Linked DNA regions of Homo sapiens: regions 1 and 2 are each linked to region 3. Evidence: fine-mapped expression QTL. A gene starts in region 3. Each other region holds a variant in brackets. All regions are shown on one strand. Distances are from middle to middle.

Region 1 (8,187 bases), 140 kb after region 3:
TTCCCTTTTTAGGTTTCAATTCAACTGTTGCTTCCTCAGAAAACTCTTCACTCACCAACGCAAAGATAAATTGTATCCCAAATGTTATTCTCTTTACACTATTTGTAATTTTGCTCTATAGAGCTTAGCATGATTTGTAATTCTATATGAACTCTACATTTACTTGTTTACCGTTTCTCTCTCCTTCTATATTGTATAACGCTTGTGTGTGTAATCACTCTTTCAAAGTAAAAATCTTAACCAGATTCTGTTTAGCCTCACAAGCAGGACCTTTCCCTTCCTTGCCATCACAATGCCAGGGTAGATTGTGAGAGTCCCATCCTCCTTTTGTGGGGTGGGTACGTACTGTGTCCTGGTATTTTACAAATGGGGTACCTGTCTTCATGAGGTAAGTTGGTTGAGGTATGAACTAAGTCTAGGGACAGGAAAGTGTTACTTGAGCTGGGTGGTTGCTGGGAATATTTGTTAGCATAGGCTAAAATTTCTGTAACACACTACAACATTTTAGTGGCTTAACACCATAAAAGTTCACTTCTGCTCAAGTAAGAGTCCAATGCAGGTATGTGTGATCAGGGTGGCTACCTTGTGTCATTTTCTTCCAAGCAGGGACTCAGGGACACAAGCTTTTTCTACCTTTTGGTTTTGCTGTCCCCTAGGGATTTAGAGCCTGTCATCTCTACCTGGCAGAACAGGAAAGAGGGAGCATGGAGGGAGCATAGACAAAACAGGAAGAAGTGTGTATCACTTCTATCCACATTCCATTGGCCAGAACTCACTGGTTCACAATAGGGTTTCATCTAATAGCAAGGGAGGCTGGGAAATATAGTCTAACTCTATGCCCAGGAAGAAGAGGCAGGCATGGATTTTGGATGCCCAGGGAAAGAACGATTGGTATAGGCCCAGGTGTGGGTGATAAGCGGTGATCCCTATGTCTTGGCAAATCCACCCTTTGCTACCATGAGGTTCCTGGTTCCACAGCTCTCCTCACTATGGTCCTTGACAGAGACACATCTTATGCTCATCCATTGTCCCTTTCAGGTCTGGATTGCTCCCTTCTGTCCTCCCTGGTCTTTCTAGAGTAATTCCCCATCTCTTCCATTCAACGCACACTATTTTTTTTTTTTTCGTTTAGTGGGGTATTTGTGTGAGGTGAAGCCCTGCTCATGGTAACATTTTTGTGTAGCCTAATATCACTTCTATTCCCCTAACACAGAAGAAGTCTTGTCTTTTTTCTCTGCTCATTGCCTCAAGGGAGAAATATAATAACATTGGTTGATATTTCAAAAACATTGCCCCACAGCAAATATAAATTCAATGAGGATAGAGACCATATCTGTATGTTCACCACAATGTCCCCAACATCTACCAAATGGGCTCAAATATTTATGAATAAATAAATGCATAAATAAGTACATGAATGTTGTAAGAAGTGGCACTACTGACAGATACCACTTGCATCCTGATTCTTCGTACCTTCTCAGACCTTCCTTCTCAAACGGGTGTGAGCAGTGCTCTTAATGGCCCTGGAAGGAGACTGGAGGGAGCTATAGTTATGGGGCCCTGACTCTGCAGGCTTGACATTTTGTCTGTAACTTCACACACACACATATTACACATACACTTGGAAAGAAAAATAATCCAAGAAAATAGGATAAGGAACGATAACAAAGGAAAAAAGAATAAAAACCCTTAGCTCCTGGCACATAGGAGTCCTGTAAATGTTTATTGAATGAGAGACAAGAAGAAATACCCAGTTTCTTCTATGCAAGGACTGAAATGGGCAATTCATGGACATGAATTGAATTCTAATAGTCTTTCCTTGAAAATTTATTAAAGAGAGCTAGACTGTATCCTGATCATAATGTCACTCTTGTTCTTTAGCAATAGACTAGGTTTATTTTTCTAGCTGGTCTCTCTGACTCTCACAGACTGCGTACGTGCTGCAGAATGCTGGGGGAAAATTAACTCTCATGACTGGGAGAGGCAGAGTCAGGAGTCACTGAGATGGTTCCCATCCAACGTGGAGAAGGAAAGCAATGTGGCTTAAGATGGATTCATTATCACTGGTGGAAGAAGTGATTTTTTAGGGTGGAGGAAGAATTTAATGAAAAGCTTCTTTGGGGGGATAACTTCTCATCAATTTTTGTGGCAGATGCTGCAGGTTGGCACTCTCACCTCTCATATGAAACCCTTTTCTTTCTAACCTCTGTCATTTTGTAGGCTGAAAAACAAAAGTACTCACTTTCCTAGCCTCTCCTGTAGCCAAAGGAGGTCATCTGACACAATTTTGGACAAGGAGACGTAAGTTACCCCTCCCCTATTTTTCCTTTTTTTCCTACCTTAAATTGATAAGATAGCAGCCGTAGCTGCCTGAATTCATCCATTTGCATTGCTATAGAGGAATACCCGAGACTGTGTACTCTATGGAGAAAAAAGTTTTATTTTGGCTCATGGTTCTGCAGGATGTACAAGAAGTGTGGTGCCAGCATCAGTACCTGCTCTGGGTCAGGGCTTCAGGAAGTTTACAATCATGGTGGAAGGTGAAGGAAGAGCAGGCAGTGTTACATGGCAAGAGGGGGAGCAAGGGGTGGGTGAAGGCACCACACTCTGTTAAACAACCAGATCTCATGTGAACTCAGAGGGAGAACTCACTCATTACCATAAGGAGGGCATGAAGACATTCATCAGGAATCTGCCCCCATAACCAAAACACCTCCCACCATGTCCCAACTCCAACATTGGAGGTCATATTCAACAGGAGACTTGGAGGGAACAAATTTCCAATCCATATCACTGCCATTTTGTGACTATGAGAGAGAGGCCAAAAGACCCACAGAGAAGTGGACCCTGACATTATTGAAGCACTGAACCAATGCTAGCAGACACCTGACTTCAGATTTCTCTTATGCAAGGAAACATAAAGCCCTCTTTGTTTAAGGCATTGAAATGAAGGATTCTGTTACTTGCAGCCCAAGTATTTCTAACAGCTCTTCTTTTAAAAATTTTCCATTTCCCACTTAAAATAAATATACCAGCTATATGTAGTAAATATGAAAAAATTCTCACCAAGATTAAAACAAGATTTTAAAAGACAGAATTGCGGAGTAGGGAACATAATTTTGAAAAAGAAGAAAGTTGGAGGACTCACACTGTCTGATTTTAAGACTTATTCTTAAACTAAGCATTTATAAAGTCTTTACAAATCAAAACATTGTTATTGGTAAAAGGACAGATACACAGATGAATGGAACACAATACAAAGCCCCAATGATATGGAATTGCAAAGGAGTCATCACTCTGGAGCATTTCTGCAGAGGAAATATCGAACCACCCAAATTACCTCTTCTACTTAAAGTATCAAGTCAGCTCAATTCCCAGGGAGCTTTTCTTAACCTGAGATAAATTCTAATCCTAATGAATATGTTTAAAGGTAAATTCTGTGTTAGCCTTGCCTTGAATAGGCTACATTTCTCCACTTTCAGGTCTTCTTTCTATTCACCCCTATCTCCCTGCCGCTTTAGGAAAATTCCTCTGCCTCCATGTGAGCTAGTCCTGGTGCTGTCAATTCTCAGTATACCTCTAGTCTGGAGCAGCTACAAGGATTGTTTTTTCCAGTGTGCCCAATGCCCTTCTCCTGCCTTTACTAATTTTGTTTTCTTATAGACACATCATCCATCCTCTCCCTCAGTTGTTTTTGGCTTCATAGTCTCCTTCTTTCTGATTCCTTTCCCTAAACTATGAATCAGATCATGCCATCCCCTTGCTTAAAAATGACAGTGGATGCTCCTTTCCGGGGTTTGTTCCTTCAACCCAGCAAAGGCCTCATGGGCTTCACCTTATGAGTCTCCTGTCAGGACCACTCTGCCCTCACATCTCAGCATGTCCAGCCCTGTCTGGACATTAAGATCTCCACCGGGCATGGTGGCTCATGCCTGTAATCCTAGCACTTTGGGAGGCTGAGGCAGGCAGATCACCTGAGGTAAGGGGTTCGAGACCAGCCTGGCCAACATGGCGAAACCCTGTCTCTACTAAAAATACAAAAATTAGCCAGGTGTGATGGCACATGCCTGTAATCCCAGCTACTCGGGAGGCTGAGGCAGGAGAATTGCTTGAACCCAGGAGGCAGAGGTTGCGGTGAGCCAAGATCTTACCACTGCACTCCAGCCTGGGCAGCAGAGTGAGACTCCATCTCAAAAAAAAAAAAAAAAAAAAAAAGGATCTCCAGCCAGAGGACATCTCCTCAAGCAGGTCTTCCTGACTGCTCTTCCCCTACATTCTGCCTTACTTCACCCAGTTTTTTTTTTACCTATTTTTAATGATCTTGTTCATTAACTTCTTTGCTCTCTTATTCGTTATCTCCATTTGCTTAAAGCTCCATGGGAACAAAATTCTTTTTTCTTTTTTTATTATTATACTTTAAGTTTTAGGGTACACGTGCACAATGTGCAGGTTAGTTACATATGTATATATGTGCCATGTTGGTGTGCTGCACCCATTAAC[T/G]CGTCATTTAGCATTAGGTATATCTCCTAATGCTATCCCTCCCCCCTCCCCCCACCCCACAACAGTCCCCAGAGTGTGATGTTCCCCTTCCTGTGTCCATGTGTTCTCATTGTTCAATTCCCATCTATGAGTGAGAACATGTGGTGTTTGGTTTTTTGTCCTTGCGATAGTTTGCTGAGAATGATGATTTCCAATTTCATCCGTGTCCCTACAAAGGACATGAACTCATCATTTTTTATGGCTGCATAGTATTCCATGGTGTATATGTGCCACATTTTCTTAATCCAGTCTATCTTTGTTGGACATTTGTGTTGGTTCCAAGTCTTTGCTATTGTGAATAGTGGCGCAATAAACATACGTGTGCATGTGTCTTTATAGCAGCATGATTTATAGTCCTTTGGGTATATACCCAGTAACGGGATGGCTGGGTCAAATGGTATTTCTAGTTCTAGATCCCTGAGGAATCGCCACCCTAACTTCCACAATGGTTGAACTAGTTTACAGTCCCACCAACAGTGTAAAAGTGTTCCTGTTTCTCCACATCCTCTCCAGCACCTGTTGTTTCCTGACTTTTTAATGATCGCCATTCTAACTGGTGTGAGATGGTATCTCATTGTGGTTTTGATTTGCATTTCTCTGATGTCCAGTGATGATGAGCATTTTTTCATGTGTCTTTTGGCTGCATAAATGTCTTCTTTTGAGAAGTGTCTGTTCATATCCTTTGCCCACTTTTTGATGGGGTCGTTTGTTTTTTTCTTGTAAATTTGTTTGAGTTCATTGTAGATTCTGGATATTAGCCCTTTGTCAGATGAGTAGATTGTGAAAATTTTCTCCCATTTTGTAGGTTGCCTGTTCACTCTGATGGTAGTTTCTTTTGCTGTGTAGAAGCTCTTTAGTTTAATTAGATCCCATTTGTCAATTTTGGCTTTTGTTGCCATTGCTTTTGGTGTTTTAGACATGAAGTCCTTGCCCATGCCTATGTCCTGAATGGTATTGCCGAGGTTTTCTTCTAGGGTTTTTATGGTTTTAGGTCTAACATTTAAGTCTTTAATCAATCTTGAATTAATTTTTGTATAAGGTGTAAGGAAGGGATCCAGTTTCAGCTTTCTACATATGGCTAGCCAGTTTTCCCAGCACCATTTATTAAATAGGGAATCCTTTCCCCATTGCTTGTTTTTGTCAGGTTTGTCAAAGATCAGATAGTTGTAGATATGCGGCGTTATTTCTGAGGGCTCTGTTCTGTTCCAGCGATCTATATCTCTGTTTTGGTACCAGTACCATGCTGTTTTGGTTACTGTAACCTTGTAGTGTAGTTTGAAGTCAGGTAGCGTGATGCCTCCAGCTTTGTTCTTTTGGCTTAGGATTGACTTGGCGATGTGGGCTCTTTTTTGGTTCCATATGAACTTTAAAGTAGTTTTTTCCAATTCTGTGAAGAAAGGCATTGGTAGCTTGATGGGGATGGCATTGAATCTATAAATTACCTTGGGCAGTATGGCCATTTTCACTATATTGATTCTTCCTACCCATGAGCATGGAATGTTCTTCCATTTGTTTGTATCCGTTTTTATTTCAGTGAGCAGTGGTTTGTAGTTCTCCTTGAGGAGTTCCTTCACGTCCCTTGTAAGTTGGATTCCTAAGTATTTTATTCTCTTTGAAGCAATTGTGAATGGGAGTTCACTCATGATTTGGCTCTCTGTTTGTCTGTTATTGGTGTATAAGAATGCTTGTGATTTTTGTACATTGATTTTGTATGCTGAGACTTTGCTGAAGTTGCTTATCAGCTGAAGGAGATTTTGGGCTGAGACAGTGGGGTTTTCTAGATATACAATCATGTCATCTGCAAACAGGGACAATTTGACTTCCTCTTTTCCTAATCGAATACCCTTTATTTCCTTCTCCTGCCTAATTGCCCTGGCCAGAACTTCCAACACTATGTTGAATAGGAGTGGTGAGAGAGGGCATCCCTACCAAGGAAATGGAAAACAAAAAAAGGCAGGGGTTGCAACACTAGTCTCTGATAAAACAGACTTTAAACCAACAAAGATCAAAAGAGACCAAGAAGGCCATTACATAATGGTAAGGGGATCAATTCAACAAGAAAAGCTAACTATCCTAAATGTATATGCACCCAATACAGGAGCACCCAGATTCATAAAGCAAGTCCTGAGTGACCTACAAAGAGAGACTCCCACACAATAATAATGGGAGACTTTAACACCCCACTGTCAACATTAGACAGATCAATGAGACAGAAAGTTAACAAGGATACCCAGGAATTGAACTCAGCTCTGCACCAAGCGGACCTAATAGACATCTACCGAACTCTCCACCCCAAATCAACAGAATATACATTTTTTTCAGCACCACACCACACCTATTCCAAAATTGACCACATACTTGGAAGTAAAGCCCTCCTCAGCAAATGTGAAAGAACAGAAATTATAACAAACTGTCTCTCAGACCACAGTGCAATCAAACAAGAACTCAGGATTAAGAAACTCACTCCAAACCGGTCAACTACATGGAAACTGAACAACCTGCTCCTGAATGACTACTGGGTACATAACGAAATGAAGGCAGAAATAAAGATGTTCTTTGAAACCAACGAGAACCAAGACACAACATACCAGAATCTCTGGGACACATTCAAAGCAGTGTGTAGAGGGAGATTTATAGCACTAAATGCCCACAAGAGAAAGCAGGAAAGATCCAAAATTGACATCCTAACATCACAATTAAAAGAACTAGAAAAGCAAGAGCAAACACATTCAAAAGCTAGCAGAAGGCAAGAAATAACTAAAATCAGAGCAGAACTGAAGGAAATAGAGACAAAAAAAAACTCTTGAAAAAATTAATGAATCCAGGAGCTGGTTTTTTGAAAGGATCAACAAAATTGATAGACCACTAGCAAGACTAATAAAGAAAAAAAGAGAGAAGAATCAAATAGACGCAATAAAAAATGATAAAGGGGATATCACCACCTATCCCACAGAAATACAAACTACCATCAGAGAATACTACAAACACCTCTATGCAAATAAACTGCAAAATCTAGAAGAAATGGATAAATTCCTTGACACATACACTCTCCCAAGACTAAACCAGGAAGAAATTGAATCTCCGAATAGACCAATAACAGGAGCTGAAATTGTGGCAATAATCAATAGCTTACCAACCAAAAAGAGTCCAGGACCAGATGGATTCACAGCCGAATTCTACCAGAGGTACAAGGAAGAACTGGTACCATTCCTTCTGAAACTATTCCAATCAGTAGAAAAAGAGGGAATCCTCCCTAACTCATTTTATGAGGCCAGCATCATCCTGATACCAAAGCCGGGCAGAGACACAACCAAAAAAGAGAATTTTAGACCAATATCCTTGATGAACATTGATGCAAAAATCCTCAATAAAATACTGGCAAACCGAATCCAGCAGCACATCAAAAAGCTTATCCACCATGATCAAGTGGGCTTCATCCCTGGGATGCAAGGCTGGTTCAATGTATGCAAATCAATAAATGTAATCCAGCATATAAACAGAACCAAAGACAAAAACCACATGATTATCTCAATAGATGCAGAAAAGGCCTTTGACAAAATTCAACAACGCTTCATGCTAAAAACTCTCAATAAATTAGGTATTGATGGGACGTATCTCAAAATAATAAGAGCTATCTATGACAAACCC
Region 2 (8,187 bases), 120 kb before region 3:
CGCCACTGCACTCCAGCCTGGGCGACAGAGCAAGACTCTGCCTCAAAAAAAAAAAAAAGATATTCTCCTAAGTTTCCAGTGATTTGTTTATGGTTTTGCTAAATATTTAGGGTGTGTCGTTTTATGGGGGTGGAATACATAGGTATCATGAATGAAAGGATGTTTTACTGCTTTGGTTTCAAAAGATACTATGTTTAAAACTCAGAACATTTGACACACTAATTGCATAATTTTAGAATAGTCATTTTCATATAGGCTTCAACATAAGTCAGACTCTTGCTGAATGCTAAAGAGGCAATATCTAGTCTGCTATAAAAGTTCTTAATTTGAAATTAACCTTAGGAATATGAGGCGGTTCTTGCTGTCTGCCTGAAATTGTAGTATATAAAAAGATGTCAGCCCTGCATTCTCTCCTAACCAAAGATGATAAACTAAGAGAAAAAATTATCACCCAGGGTTTCTAAGCCATTGTAATTGTTTTAATCTTGATTGCTAGTATAGAAGTTTATAAGATCATGAAGACTTTATCTTGAATATTCAAAATTAGAGGCTTTGGAGGAAATTTTACCTGGTTTTAATTTTAAACTTGGTGTGACACTTTTTTTTCTTCACCATAACCACTTTAATATTGACACTCCTAAAGTTGGAGCAGAGTCCTAAAATTTATAAACATGCAGTGCTTTGGCTGCAGGTCATGTCCTGTTCAGAACAGTGTCATAGGTTTTTATTTTAACTTTTCCATCCCCTGTCCCTCATATCTATGGAGAAAAATACCTAGACTGTGTTCTCAGTCTGTCCCATATCTCTCTTCAGATTTGGTGTTAAAATTATAGCTTCTAAGTAGGAGTTTGTTCTTATAGGCAGTATAAAAACTTTACCTCTTTAGCCTATGTCCAAAAGTTCACATACCACGTTTTCATGGCATTACATTCATTACTTTTTGTATAAGGATGGTATGATTGAAAAAAAAATCTGCCTTATTTTTATTTTATTATTTATTTTTTTGAGACAGTCTTGCTCTCTCACCCAGGCTGGAGTGCAGTGGTGCGACCTCAGCTCACTGCAACCTCTGCTCCCTGGATTCAAGTGATTCTCCTGCCTCAGCTTCCCAAGTAGCTGGCATTATAGGCTTGCACCACCACACCCAGCTAATTTTTGTAATTATTATTATTATTATTATTATTTTAGTAGAGACGGAATTTTGCCATGTTAGCTATGCTGGTCTCAAACTCCTGACCTCAGGTGATCCACCCACCTCGGCCTCCCAAAGTGCTGGGATTACAGGCGTGAGACACCACACCTGGCTTTTTTTTTTTTTTTTGCGACGGAGTCTGGCTCTGTCACCCAGGCTGGAGTGCAATGGTGCAATCTTGGCTCACTGCAACCTCTGCCTCCCAGGTTCAAGCCATTCTCCTGCCTCAGCTTCCCAAGTACTTGGGATGATAGGCATGTACCACCATGCCCAGCTAATTTTTGTATTTTTAGTAGAGGCTGGTCTCAAACTCCTGACTTCAGGTGATCTGCCCACTTCGGCTTCCCAAAGCATTGGGATTACAGGCGTGAGCCAGCATGCCCGCCCTCTTTTTTTTTTTTTTTTTTTTGAGACAGAGTCTTGGTCTGTTGCCCAGGCTGGAGTACTACAGCATGAGCTCAGCTCACCGCAACCTTTGCCTCCCGGGTTCAAACGATTCTCCTGCCTTAGCCTCACAAGTAGCTGAGATTACAGGTGTGCACCACCATTCCCAGCTAATTTTTGTATTTTTAGTAGAGACGGGGTTTTGCTGTGTTGGCCAGGCTGGTCTCGGACTCCTGACCTCAAATGATCCACCCGCCTCAAATGATCCACCCGCCTGGTACTCCCAAAGTCCTGGGATTACAGGTGTGAGCCACTGCACCTGGTCAGCCTTATTTTTCTTAACTAAGAGTAAATTGGCCCTGAAGAATAGTAATGTGTATATTATAAGCTTCTCTACAGGAAAGCCTCTTCTAATTCTTCTGTTCAGTCTTATCTATCATTCTTTGACTTAACTTGATGAAATAAAAAACATATGTCCTTGACTTACAGAGTGTGAACCAAAAGGTCTGTGGTTAGAATCCAGAAGAAATAGGGGTTTATCTTCAGAAACCTGGACTTCATTTGGTCCTCACCCCCATCCACATGCTTTAGTAACTATAGGGAAAAGGTATAGGCAGTAAAAAGCTTCTTGTCTGTGCCTTTCCTTTTACTTGGATCCATGCGGTGGCTTCTGAATGAGATATGAAAAGTGGCTGTGAAGGGGTTAGAAGAAGGTTAGGGAAAAAGAAAAGTTGGGGTATACAAATTTCTTCCCATCCCTGAGCCGGCTTAAGGGACAGCAAGTTCTGTACAGGTCTGGCCAAATGGGGAGATGGTATAAAACCCAACCAGGAAGGGGCATGGAGATAATGAGTCTTCCAGAAGGCCATTACTGAAGCCTGCAGACGTGTCCATGTAGAACAGTCTGGATAAGCTGTAAGCATTGTTGACCCCAGAATTGTGAAATTCTGAGCATGTTATCAATCTGGGATGCTCTTTTTTAGCGATGTCAGTTGCTGGAAATTTTTTCATCAGCTCTAGTCTGTCCTATTTGAAAGGACCAACTTGCCAGGTGCAATGGCTCATGTCTGTAATCCCAGCAATTTTGGAGGCCAAGGTGGGCGGACTGCTTGAGTCCAGGAGTTCCAGACCAGCGTGGGCAACACGGCAAGACCCCGTCTCTATAAAAAAATACAAAAATTTAGCCAGGCATGTTGGTGCATGCCTGTAGTCCCACCTACTCGGGAGGCTCTCTTGAGCCTAGGAGGTGGAGGTCACAGGTGAGCTGAGCTCTCACCACCACACTCCAGCCTGGGCAATAGAGCAAGACCTTGTCTCAAAAAAAATTAAGTTACATTAAAAATGAAAGAACTATTTCAAGAATTAAAGCTTCTAACTCTTGCTGTCTGCCTGAAATTGTAGTATATAAGATGTCAGCCCTACATCCTCTAACTACAGATGATGTAGGCAAATTAAGAGATAAATTAGGTAAATTTACTGCCAGTTGGATTGATGTGTGCTCATTGCTTGAGTTGCCAAATGTTTTTTGTGTTTGAGCTTTTCATTGATGTATTGTGTATCATGTGTTTGATAAAAGGGGCATGTAGTTCTAATAATGATAAAATCCCATGATGTGGAACTCCAGGAATTTATAGTGTTGTGTTGAATTGGAATTTCATTTAGTTAAAATGTGCCCCGTGCTACTCCCAAACTTCAGAAGATACAGATTGTACCCAGCCCCTCTGTAATCATTGAAATCAAGGTTGCTGTGACAACACACATCACCAACCCTTTCTTCTAACTGATATCTTTAGGTGAGTTTGGCAGGTTAGGTGGATTTTGTTTAGGACATGGGGAAAGA[C/T]AAAGGAGTTAATTACTACTTCAAAGTAAGATAAAAATGACCAAAACTACGTTTTCTTCTCTCTGGCTGCTGAGTAAATGTCATTCAGTCACATGCCCAAGATTTGGGGTAAAAATTTTAAAGTCCTAGGTAGGATTACTCAATCTTGATAAATTTAAATGAGACTGCCTATTTCCATAGGTTCTCTAGCCTGGCATATTTTGTTTTATGATAAATGCTTATTTAAAGGTGCCTCAGTGGAATTTTTCCTGTGATGCAGATAAATTGTGGTTACTCATTATCCAGGGCCCTTGATCACTTAGCCATTTATTAGGTTCTAGAACAGCTTGGTGCTGATGGTCTCAGAGCCTCATAAAAAATAATTTCAGCAGTGAAAATCCTCAAATTACCTAACCTAGAAAATCAGTAGCAAAAGAAGGAACAACAGGAAAAGGAACAGAGGCCAGGGTGAAGATGCTTCTAGGAGCCAGAATTGGAGATGAACTTTTCACATATACATTTCATCGTGGTAGCCAATTCAGTTTTGTGGGATTCTCTGTAAATTTTCCATCTTTTCTCATTTCTCTGAAGTCCAGCAGCCTTGTGCAATCTTGCCACATGCCCATTCCTGGCAGCCCCTGCTCTTCCCATCTTTCTCTGAAGAACACAACTGCCCTATTCTGTGCAAATGACCAGGCAGCACCTTTTAGCCCCAAGAAACCAGACACATCCTCAAGGAGAGGCCAGGGTCCTGGGGAGAGCATCTCGGATTTCATTTGTAGAACTATCCGGGAATTGATTTTGATTTGCCTTTCCTAAAGAGGCAAATGATGGTACTAAAATTTGGTTTCTTCCTTCTAAGCCCATCATTTCACCATTTAGATTTTAGCTCAGAGGTTCCCACATTTTCTCAGTTCACAGTGCCCTTAATAGCTCAGTAATTTTTTCATCCGTCCCCAAGCCAAAAGAAATACCTAATAATTTAGTTTATGAAGTAATTGCAAGACAACTTGAAAGTAGTTGTTTGTATGGTGGTCAGCAGATGGCGCTGTGTTTCAAATTTAAAATACCCAGCAGTTAGCTGGATGATGTGGCAGGCAACTGTAGTCCACATGGACAGGCCGAATCCGCTACTCAGTAGGCTGGGGTGGGAAGATCACTTGAGCCTAGGAGTTCAAGGCCTGGATAGGGGAGTTGCTTGAGCCCAGGAGTTCAAGGCAACATAGTGAGACCCCCATCTGTTAAATACACACACACACAGAGGGGCAAAGGGAATAAATAAATATCCAGCAATGCCCCAGGGTGCCTCAGCACACAGTTTGAGAACTGCGTCATTAATCCACTTTCTAGATGCAGCATTCATGGTTTGGTCTTGTAACCTACTATTTTGATGGGAACCAAGTTGAGCCCACAATCAGAATTGCTCAGAAACTACACAGTCTGGAGTGTTTGAGGTCTTACTGTTAAGGGTTACATCTTTGATGACACCTACTGGATGGTTTTGCAGTAATCATGCTGCAGCCTAAAGTTCAGAGAATATGAGGGTGGTGGGAAATGATCACAGGGTGCTGCTGTAGCTCTGAACTGCGTTGTCAGAAGGGTTTGTTGACCTGGTGGCCTTTTTCCTGAGCAGACTGTGAAAGGCCTGGCATCCTGATTGGCTCAAGGCAGGAGTTGATAGATGCAGGCTCCCACAGTACCTTAAAAAGGAGAAATATTTTTTGTAAGTTCTACAAGTACAAGGTTTTTATAAGTACAGCGTTCCAAGTACCTGGGCACTCTGGTTGGCTTCAGTTACAGCTCACACAGGCTGAGTCATCTCTGCCTATGTATCTATACAAGCCATTTCACATCCATAGTACCAATACTTTTAAGGTCAAAAACAAGATGAATCTGAATGGTGGCCTTTTTGTCCTCCACCAATCCCTGTTTCTACCTTCATCAAACTACTCTGCTGTTTGCACTTCCTCACAACTTCCCTTGCTGCTTATATTTCTTTTTTCCCCTCAGGTGTCTCTCCTTCCCTTCTAACTGGCAGCAGCCCCCTTCACCTCAGGAGCGGGCTTTAGATCCGCTCTGCCAGGCAGCTTGCTAACTTCTGTGTAGCTCTCTGAAGCAGGTAGAGAAATGTTTTGCTAAATGCATGCCGCTCCCACTGCCTTTCTAGTCCTAACCCTCAATGTTCCTTAGTTGTTTGCCTTGTTTCCTACAATTTCAGCTAAAACTATTGCTCAGTATGCAGTATTATGCTACAGTGTCCCTTGCAAGTACTTGTTAGTTTGTGCAGTGCTTCTGAGATGTAATTAAATGTTTATGCAATGTTTAAAATAAACTCTAGAGGGCTAAAGCCATTAATATGCCCATAGGACACATCTCGATAAATGCTGGCATATATGGCATTTTCATGCAATAGAAACTGTTAGAATCAAGGGAGAAATATAAGACTAAAATATCAGTACCCTTTCACATAGCATTCTTGTTTTAACCTATGACAGATGGATGTCCAGAGCCTTTTCTTTTTCAGAGTCCTTGGTTTAGCAACCCTTGTTCGTTTGGTGTTACTTGTTATAATAGCATTTCTTTGCACCAAATGAAAATAGGTTAGTTTGAGTGTTGACAGAAGTGTTTATGTTGAATTTTGTCACATATGACTTTTGGATGAGCTGAGTGTAGAGTTTCTTTTGTCTGTCTGTTTCCATTTTTTCCATTCGACATAGTTCTTTTCAGTGCTCGGAATTTTTTGAAAGATTGAATTTCCCAAATGTAAGAAAGAAAATTTTATCCATATTTCCACACCAGTGTTACTGTCCAGCATACATTTTGAAATGATTTCTAGTCTATAGTGTAGGCAAACATGAAAATAGTACTATGTAGCTGTTTATTAAGGTATAGATGTAATTTAGGTAATTGAAATAGATGATTAGTTTTGTGTGATGGAGTGCCTGAGCAGGTTCTGACATTTTTATAAAGGTCAATGTTTTCACTTGACTGCTTTCTAGAGGTGTGTGTTTACCTTTCTCTCTTGCAGGACCTGGAGTTGCTGGCTACCTTACCGCAGGTACATCTACATCAGTCATGTCTAACCTGCCACCTCCTGTAGACCATGAGGCAGGCGACCTTGGCTATCAGACTTGAAATATTCACGAGAGACAATAAACGCTGAAAGGCCAGTGCCAAGTCCACATTCCTCCAGCTGATACGTTGAAGCAAACTCTTACTGCCTTTCTCCTGGTTTCATGACAGTGTTATTCCTTTTTCTATAAATATATTTTTAGGAAAAAAAGTCAGTGATCCTAATTGTATCACATTATAAGAAAGCACTCTGTGGATCAACATAAGTGGGTACACAAGAATTTTTTTTTTCTTGGTGTATGTAAGCACATTTGTTCCTTTATATCTGTTTACAAAACTGTGAATCAAAAAGACAAAACTTTCTTCCTAGTTTTTGTAATTTTTTTTTTGAACTAGCATGACTGTAGGGTTGAGCTACAGTCAACAAAAATTGGGCTAAGTCACTTTTCCCCAGGAAAGAATATTTCCCTCTCCTGCATCAAGTCTGCGTGGCCATCCTCCCCCCACCATCCAAGACTATTAGGTTTTGTCCCTGCACCCTTCACTGGCATCCTCAATCATTAACCTTCTGAAAGCTCACAGTACACATTAGTATGTATAACTGGCTTTACCAAATTGAATGAAAAGGAGCTTGTGCAAAAAAATTTAAAAATGGATGTCAAGATGTTATGTAAAAGATGAGTGTAATTGTGAAATGTTCTATACACTATCAAATATATAAAGCTTTCTATATTGAATGTACATTATACAGATCATTCATATGTGTACATAAAATTTTAAAAATAAAGGGAATTGACTGCTTTGTTAATGAGATATATTTGTTCTAGTTTAATCTTTCCGTTTGAAGACCTCATATATCTATCTTTATTTCTAAGACAGATGTAGTATTAAACAGACGTTATCTTACATTCGTAACTCTTCATATAGATGGCTGCATTAACATAATCTAATCATTCCTAACTTTAATATTTCAGCCACATCTAAGTTTCCAGACACAGCATCTCATTTATTTTTCATACAACATTCAGGAATGGGTCAGGCTGTTAATAATATGTGACATTAATTCTACTATTTTTAAGAAGAGAAAATTAAATAGCCAGAAGATTTTTCAAGTAACAAATCTCAGCACATAGATTTTCTAGTGTGACCACAAACTACAAGAAAATATAAACATGGAGAATATAAACAAACAGTTCTTAAAGAATGGGGAAATACCCACACTTCCAAGTTTCCTTTCAAAGCAAGAACCAAGTTTATTCCACAGTTGATGTGTAAGAACAGCCAAAATGGAAACTTACTCCTATTCCAAATCACTAATTCAAACTTCTGCATCAAGTTTATCATCTCTAACAGATTATAGAGTAATATGTTAATGGAAGTATTTTAATATGTAACTAGGGTTTTAGTTTCTAGACAATAGTTGGGTATAAAAATGTGTTCACTAAAAAATTATAACAGCTAAATTGGGATTAGGTATTTAGGAGAGCATAAATCAACATAGCAATGTTTTCTTTTAAATACTAAGAATATAAGTATTGTGAATACAATAGTTAAAGGCCCGTTAAATTAGTCTACGATCATTGATGTTTAGATGCCAACAATACTTAACCTTTATTGAATATTTACTGTCTGCTAAGTATTGCATAATCTCATTTAATCCTCAGAACGAACCTGTGGGCCAGTTAATCCTCAGAGCAAACCTGTTGGCCTGGTACTGATA
Region 3 (8,161 bases):
GTTGTTTGTTTGTTTGTTTAAAGATTACTTCCCTCCTCTGCTCAAGCATGTTTTAAGTCTCTCTCCATCTCAATTCAAAGTAAAAGCCAAAGTCTCTTTATTGCCTGACAGGGTCCCTGTTGCCCTTGCTTACACTACTTCAGGCATTTGGGCTGTGTTTCCTCAACACACTGGGCACACATCCCTTCCAGGGCCTTTGCATTAGCAGTCCCCTCTGTCTGGAACACTCTTTTCCTGGATATTTACATGGCTCACATTTTCATCCCCCTTCAAGTCTTTGCTGAATGCCGTGTGCTCGAGGAAATCTTCCTGCCCCACACCCAAACATTTCCTATTCTCTTTTCCTCCATGTTACATATCAACTTCTACATTGTAAAGTTCAGAAGCTGATTTTCCTGTCTGTCTTCTACAAATACAATGGAAGTTCCAGGGAGGCAAGATTATTGTTACATCCTCAGTGGTTGATACAGTGCCAGATACATATTAGGCACTCAGCTGCAAATCACAAGTTTTGTTGTATCAAGCTATATAATACTTTCATTATTGATTAATTCTAAATATTTTATCTTTCCAATAAGATTTAATTTTTGCAAATTTTAAAAGTAAATCTTGCAGATAAAAAGAGTATTTATGAAATTGGTAAGGCATGAGGAATAGTAATGCCACAAACACCATTTTCACTACCCGGAGAAAATTACTGTCTTTGAAACCCTGTATGTCCTTCCCCTTGAGTGACTACCATTCTGAATTTTATATTTATCATTCCCTTGAAGTTTATCTCTGTATATAATATACTGTTAATTTCTTCACGTTTTTCATTCTGTGTTATGTACAGCTGTAGCTGAATCATTTTCACTGTTGTATGCTACTCCATTATGTGAATATACTGCAATTTATTCATCCATTCTGTATCTATAGACATTGTGTTGTTTCCTGGATTTTTGCTATTACAAACAGTACAATGAACATCTTTGTAGATTGTCCCCTTATACTGTAGTACAAGAAAAGTCTCAGGAGTATGTATCTATGAGTAGAACTGCTAGGTCATAGGTCATGTGTATCTTCCCAACTTCATTTTTACAAGATCATGTTGAGTTATTTTTCAATAGCAGCTATACTAATTCACACCCCTATATGAGTCCCTGTTGCCCCATATCCTGATGCTTGATATTGTCAGATTTTTTTTTTTTTTGAGACGGAGTCTGCCTCTGACTCACCCAGACTGGAGTGCAGTGCTGTGATCTCAGCTCACTAAAGCCTCTGCCTCCCAGGTTCAAGCAATTCTCCTGCCTCAGCCTCCCGAGTAGCTGGGATTTACAGGTACCCACCACCACACCCAGCTAATTTCGTATTTTTAGTAGAGACGGGGTTTCACCATGTTGGCCAGGCTGGTCTCGAACTCGACCTCTGGTGATCCACCTGCTTCAGCCTCCCAAAGTGCTGGGATTACAGGCATGAGCCACTGCACCCAGTCTATTGTCAGATTTTTTAAAAGTCAATTTGGTGGTGTGAAATGGTTTCTCATTGTGTTGTTTTTTTTTTTTTAATTTGCATTTCCCTTATTACTACAGTATAATAAAGTTGAGCATCATCAAGTTTTCGCCCATTTTTCTGGTGAGCTATTATAGTTATATTCTGAATATTTTAACCATTATATGCACTGAAAATATTTTCTTCTGTCTTTTCACTTTAAGTCTTTTAATGAAAATTTATCAGTCATTTCCTTTGTGGTTTCTGCTGTTGTCTTTAAAATATTTTCTTCTCTAAAGTCAAAAATATAACTTACACATCTTCCAAACATTTATAGTTTAACATTCAGTTCTTTTATCTACCTGGAACTGTGTGAGATAAAGAGTCTAATTTCTATTTCTTCATACAGATAACAATTATTCCAGTATAACTTCTTGAAAAGTTCTTCTTTTCCCCCCACTGACTCTCAGTGCCAACATTGTCACTTATCAAACTTCTATAAATATGTGGGTCTTTCTGTGAACTCTCTGTTCTATTTTATTGGTCTGTCTATCTCTGTGCTAATATCATACCATCTTAACTCAAATTTCCCACCTTGTGGTTCTTTAAAAATGTTTCTGCTATCCTTAGCCCTTCGCTCTTACACATAAAATTTAGGAGCACTTTTTCAAATTAGAGAAAAAAATTAGGATTTTGATTGTCATTGCTTTGAATCAATAGATCAACTGGAAGAAAAAAGTTTGCAATATTGAATATTCCTATTCAACAACATGGCATCTCTCAATTTTTAAAATTCTTTTTAAGGTCCTAATAAAAGTTTTATCATTTCTCTACAAAGGTATTGCACATCTTTTACTTAGGTAATTTATATTTTTGATGCTCCTGTAAGTTTTTGAAAATTACATTTTAACTGTTGCTAAAGTAGAGAAATGCAGTTGATTTCTGTACACTGAACTTTGATAGTCTTTTACTGTCTATGTAGATTATTGGCTCTTTAATCCATGAATCACTTAATTTATAAACATGTATTTGTTAGCTATCTTCTGTTAAACTTTTGGTATTAAAAAAACACATATTCCTTTTTTTTTTTTTTTTTTTTGAGTCTCACTCTGTCACCTAGGCTGGAGCATGGTGGTGCAATCTTGGCTCACTGCAACCTCCCTCTCCTGGTTCAAGCGATTCTCCTGCCTCAGCATCCCAAGTAGCTGGGACTACAGGCACGTGCCACCACGCCCGGCTAATTTTTGTATCTTTAGTAGAGATGGGGGTTTCACCATGTTGGCCAGGCTGGTCTTGAACTCCTGACCTCAAGTGATCCACGTGCCTCGGCCTCCCAAAGTGCTGGGATTACAAGTGTGAGTCACTGCACCTGGCCAAAACACACATTTTCAAAATATAAAGATTGATTCTTTTGAGTTTCTGAGACTTCCTTCATGGCCTATGTGTTTTCAATTTTTATAAACTTTTTCATGTGTCCTAGAAATGAATGTGTGTTCTCTGTGGGATCCAGAGTTCCATATATATTTATTAAACCAAGCTTATACAACATTTCTGGAAGCAATTTTTATACCACAACTAATTTACAACTAATTTCATTTTTTGAACACGGTTATGGTTTAACATTCAGCTTGGTTCAGAATTAAGTATCTTTCAGTTATGTACCTCTTCAACACTCCTACAATATGAACGTTACTATCTCCTTTTTGCCAAAGCAGGACTAGATGTTCAAAGGGTAACTTGTCCAAATTCCACAGCAATTGAAATAGTTGAAATTTGAACTTTGATCTGTTTCAGTTTGTTACAACACAAGGCTTCTAGCCTAGAAATCTCAGCTATTCTTTATTCCACCTTTCCCTTCATCTTCCAATATCTATTGGGACATGGGACCTTTAAATTCTACACCCTAAAATGTTCCCTGATCCATCTCATTTATTATTATTTTCATTTTCACCAAAATCAGTAGTCAAAGAATATAAATGCTAGTGATAAAATACCACTAGCACACTATGTTGTTGCAATTTTTACGCCCTTTCACCTATATTACGGTATTTCATTTCATTAATAAGACTAATCAAAATAGGTATTACAACTTAGGAAACTAGTTCTCAGAGTGTTTATGTAACATATTTAAACTCCCAGACAGCAAGTGACAGATCCAGTTTTCTGAATGATAGGACTCTTTCTGTAGCCCTGTATTAGTAACAATGTTATTTTTAGAATAAAGTTTTAAGAATGTATTATCTATTGTAAAACATCAGACTAAAGCCAGATTCCCGGTGGGGAACGCTACTCTCAGGATCCTCTCACTCAGTTCCATTACCTCACTTCAAAAAACCTGAGGCCCAAAGTGGTGCTGTGACCTCCTAAGTGGAAAAGCTAGTACTCGAATTCGGATCCTCCATCTGGTGTCATTAACTCAGCCTCCCGGAATACGGCCAATCAAACGGAATTACACCAGCTTCTCAGAAAAAGATCTAATGGCTGTATCACAAAAGAAGGCATCTATTTCTCAGAATTTGTAGCCTTAATTGCCTTGGTGAATCCTCAAGGGACATAAATCCATCCTTTAACAAAGATTCCTTTGGATAGTAGAATGGTGAACGTTATTGCGCTTCCATTACCGCCCTCCAATTGGGAAGCCCCCAGCATCGAATTCGGAGGGCCGGCAATAGCAGCTCATGCCTGTAGGGTGCGTCCACTGACTGCAGGAAAAGCAATCAGGGTGGGAGAAACTTAGGAAACCACCCAGGGCCAAAGGAAGGAAAACTCAATGTACAAATTTTTTTCCGCTGGAGGCAAAGGCTGACATCCATACCTGTACTGGGCAATGGTCAGCGTAGCCTCACGTTCGGCCCCAAAGCCAGACAAGTGCTGGTTTAGGTAGGCCTCCAGGGACTTGCTGTCGAACTTGTGCTGGGGCAGCACTTCGGCCAAATCGGACTCGCCAGTAGCACCTGGCTTCATGATCACCCCCGCAGGCCACAGCAACGCGGCATCCACAGGTCTCGAGTGCCGAAGTCCTTCAGGATTGGGGCAACGTCCCCTCTAGAGCATGGGCCGAGGCCGGGGTGGGGTCTGGCTCCAGCCAACCGCACACAGCCTACGCGCCGTTGCTGAGCAACGCTTGCCCGCTGAATCCCGAGGTTTTAGCTCTAGTCAAGTGCCAAAAGAGCCCAATGTGTGTTCGGGTTTCAATTCTCCAGTCAGCGTCAGAGTTGGAGGCCTCAATTTTAAAGAAGGCAAAGCCATGGTCATCGTTGCGGGTAAGGAACAACGCAGAAGCCTCTTCCACCCCCAAATTTAATGCAACAGCAGGCGGAAGACCTGCAGGGTCCCGTTCAGAAAAAGGGCCGTCAGACTGTCGAGCCTAAGAATAAAAAGACCCTGTTTCTCTTAGATACCCGGTTAGCAAGGCAACATCGCTGGCCTCCTGCCCTGGACACTTATCACCCCGGTGCTGCTGCGGCCGGGTTTAGCCGGCCCAGCGAGGAAGGAAGCCGAAAGAGCCAGGTTTTTGATGAGGGGGAGCGATGTCTGCGACGCACCGGAAGCGGCTCCGAGGAAGGCCTGTGGGAGTCTCGGAGACGTGTCTGTCTGTGAGGCGCTGGGTGCACGTCCCCAGGGCTCTGGGCTAGGAAGGCAGCGGCGAGGTGCCTCCCCACGTACCCCTCGCGGGCCCAGCCGAGCAACGTGGGGCGAAGGCGGCGGCGAAGGCCCGGGCTGGGAGCGTTGGCGGCCGGAGTCCCAGCCATGGCGGAGTCTGTGGAGCGCCTGCAGCAGCGGGTCCAGGAGCTGGAGCGGGAACTTGCCCAGGAGAGGAGTCTGCAGGTCCCGAGGAGCGGCGACGGAGGGGGCGGCCGGGTCCGCATCGAGAAGATGAGCTCAGAGGTGGTGGATTCGAATCCCTACAGGTAACCTGCGTCGCCGGTCGGAGGCAGGCGCGGGGGACGAGGTCAGGCTCCGTGAGGTCAGAAGTGAGGCGCTTCCCACGTCCCGCTCATGGGGACGCCCGCCACCCTTTTCTTGGTCTGCGAATCCTGTTCCCAAATGGGCAAGGCCACATCTTAGTACTGATCGGAAGATATTCTTTCTCTTTTTTAAAAACCTCCAGTGAGTCAGCCATATGGTGCTGCTCCTGTGCCTGCTGAGGACGTGTGTCCAGTTTCCTATCACCCTTGCCTCTTAATTAGTCCGCCTCGCTGTGTATAAGACTGATAGTAAGAACTTTCAGAAGATGAGATCAAATATTAAACCTGCTAAGGTAAACTTTGAGTTTCATTAAAGGCTTATCAATGCATCTTAAATGGGGTCGGGGCGGGGGAGAGCGGGGTTAGCTCTATTCTGAGATATTCGGGTGCTCCTTAACATCTCAAACCATTCGACATTACCAAGACTGCCCAGGCCTCTCTTTTCTTCTTTCCTAACAAAGCTTATCAATTCAGCAGATGGAATATAGTGCAATGGTTAAGGGTAAGGACTCTACCGCCAGACTGATTGCAATTCAAATCTAACTACTCTCTTCGTAACTGCCTAACCTTTGGCAAGTTGTGAAACTTTCCGCTTCAGCTTCTCACCTGTACAATGAAGATAATAGTAATATCTATCTCTGTCATAGTTGTGGGGATTGAAAAAATCAGTATGTATAAAGGTCTTAGAGTAGCGCTTGTACATGGCAAGCCTTATACAAGATTTTATTGCTAGGTGCATTTAGTAGCAAGCAGTTATTGAGCTTTCACTGTGTAAGCACTTTACATGCATTGTCTCCTCCCACCAAAACCCTATGAGATTGCTACTATTTTACCCCCATTATATAAGTGAGAAAATTGAGGCTTAGAGAGCCACCTCAGGTTCATGCCTTGGTAGTAAATAATAAGGCCTGTCTTGCATTAGATTTGTCTTAATGTAAAATTCTCATGAACCGTCTCCCCAGTAAAAACAATTAAGTCGTGTAGCTAAAAATTGTATAGTGTTAAAGTAGATAAGGAAGATTTTATTGTTGCTTTTTTCCTTTAAAGAGCATAACAGTTTTGATTTTTAAAAAAGGTTTTAGTTTGTGATATATAAAGCCGCAGTAGAAGTCTTAGGGTGCACTGTTTTAACTGTGTTGCCAAATATGAACGGTTAATGGTCCAGAATTTTTAGAGATTAAATAAGCATGAACTGACATCTCTAATCAGAATAAGTGGAAACTATTTGACATTTTTAAAACATTTTAAAATTTTACAAATGAAGACTTTGAAATTTTCCCTCCAGAATGAAAAGCAGAGGAATATGGGTCATGAATTTAAGTTGTCTTTCAGACATTATTTAATATGAGATGATCCCTTGACATTGTAATTATAACAAAACTTTCAGAACTCAAGTCTAAATATGTAGTATTTTCTATCTGATTTGCACCATTGACTTTATTAAAATTGCTATACAGGAGATGGCAGTTTGATACCCAAAGCTGTTCACTGATATATGGAATTTTAATAAAGTTCAGCTTTAATTTTTTGAATTGTTCATACAGCAAATATTTACTGAGTACATTTTTGTCTCCAGTCCTCCTTGACAATATTATTTACTTTGTATTGAGTACTTATTGTGTGCAGACACTGTGAATATAAAGTAGACATGGTCTTTTCCCTCTAGAGCTTACCAGATGAGTGTGAGATAAATAGAAAAGTAAACATGCCATTGCAGTACAGGTGATAAGAATTATGATAAAGTACAGTGTTATTATTGATAAAGTACAGGTTATTGAATTATGATAAAGTACAAAAGGTTATAGGAAAGGGATATGTATGTGTTCAACACCATTTTAATTGCTTCAAGAGATACAAAAGAAATATAAAGCACCTGACTTTTGCTTCAGTTTGAGAGACTACATGGAGGTGGGATATTAAAAAACACAAGTAACCGTAAAATTATGTGTTATGGAATATAGTTATAAGCATGTGGAAAAATTGGAGAGGCTTTGAGATTAGAAAACCTGGTATCAAATCCTGGCTCAGAAACCCAGCTCAGAATACCACTTGCCAGTTAGCTGATTTTGGGCAGTTGATTAACCCAAACCGTTTCCCTCATCTGTAAAAGGGGGTTGCCATCCATGCTTCTCAGATTATTTAAAGATTGAAGGGAGCATCAAGGTAAGGATAGCAAATTCCTGTGATGGATCTGCCATCACTTTCTACCCAACCTCACTAAAGTGACAGTAAAGGAATTTTTTAAAAGAAACTCCCATTGAAAATATAAAGGGTTCGTATTAATAACTGATAGGGAGGGGTGGGTCCCTGTACTTGATTATAGTAACAATTTGGAAACTAGAGAAGGGATGGGTGAAGGTAACTGATTTAATAGATTCAGAGAAGTTTAATCTTAAGCTCGCAACCCAGTTTATTGCAAGAATCCCCCAAAAGGCTCAGGAATAGGCACAGGTACTTGCAGAACTTCAGGTAGGGCTAAAAAAAACTTTCAGTTGAAAATCTGTTGAAGAAACAAAAGCCCCAGATCCCCTACTCCACTGTGGGTAACTGGGCAAACACTCCTTCCCTACCAGAAGAGGAGAGTAGAGATTTCTTCATTAGAAAGAGTAAAATAGAAGATTTCCAAGAATAATTGGGGCAGGTCTTTGTACCTGAAGGAAGGGGTAAACTGATTGTTTACATGCTGAATGCTGTGACTGAATGTAAACTAAATGCTTACATAC

The links.
Region 1: its variant is fine-mapped to the expression of ACAD11 in whole blood (TOPMed, PIP above 0.99).
Region 2: its variant is fine-mapped to the expression of ACAD11 in whole blood (TOPMed, PIP above 0.99).

What each region holds. Positions count from the first base shown.
Region 1 is chr3:132,791,314-132,799,500 of GRCh38, forward strand. It overlaps NPHP3-AS1 (NPHP3 antisense RNA 1), which reads left to right. Exons shown (of 11, transcript NR_002811.2): 4 at 2,221-2,301. The region is part of intron 2 of LOC105374115 (a long non-coding RNA gene); the gene reads right to left. Among named protein-coding and RNA genes, the nearest start is that of NPHP3-ACAD11, 73 kb to the left of the region's middle. The variant T/G (reference allele first, on the strand shown) is at 4,501.
Region 2 is chr3:132,531,753-132,539,939 of GRCh38, forward strand. It overlaps DNAJC13 (DnaJ heat shock protein family (Hsp40) member C13), which reads left to right. Exons shown (of 56, transcript NM_015268.4): 56 at 6,424-7,280. The coding sequence ends at 6,530. Among named protein-coding and RNA genes, the nearest start is that of ACKR4, 61 kb to the right of the region's middle. The variant C/T (reference allele first, on the strand shown) is at 3,417.
Region 3 is chr3:132,655,318-132,663,478 of GRCh38, forward strand. ACAD11 (acyl-CoA dehydrogenase family member 11) reads right to left here and starts at 4,492. Exons shown (of 20, transcript NM_032169.5): 1 at 4,286-4,492. The coding sequence starts at 4,434. UBA5 (ubiquitin like modifier activating enzyme 5) reads left to right here and starts at 5,012. Exons shown (of 12, transcript NM_024818.6): 1 at 5,012-5,381. The coding sequence starts at 5,221. The region is part of intron 26 of NPHP3-ACAD11 (NPHP3-ACAD11 readthrough (NMD candidate)); the gene reads right to left. RefSeq lists enhancers at 4,794-5,332, 4,868-4,957, 5,328-5,607.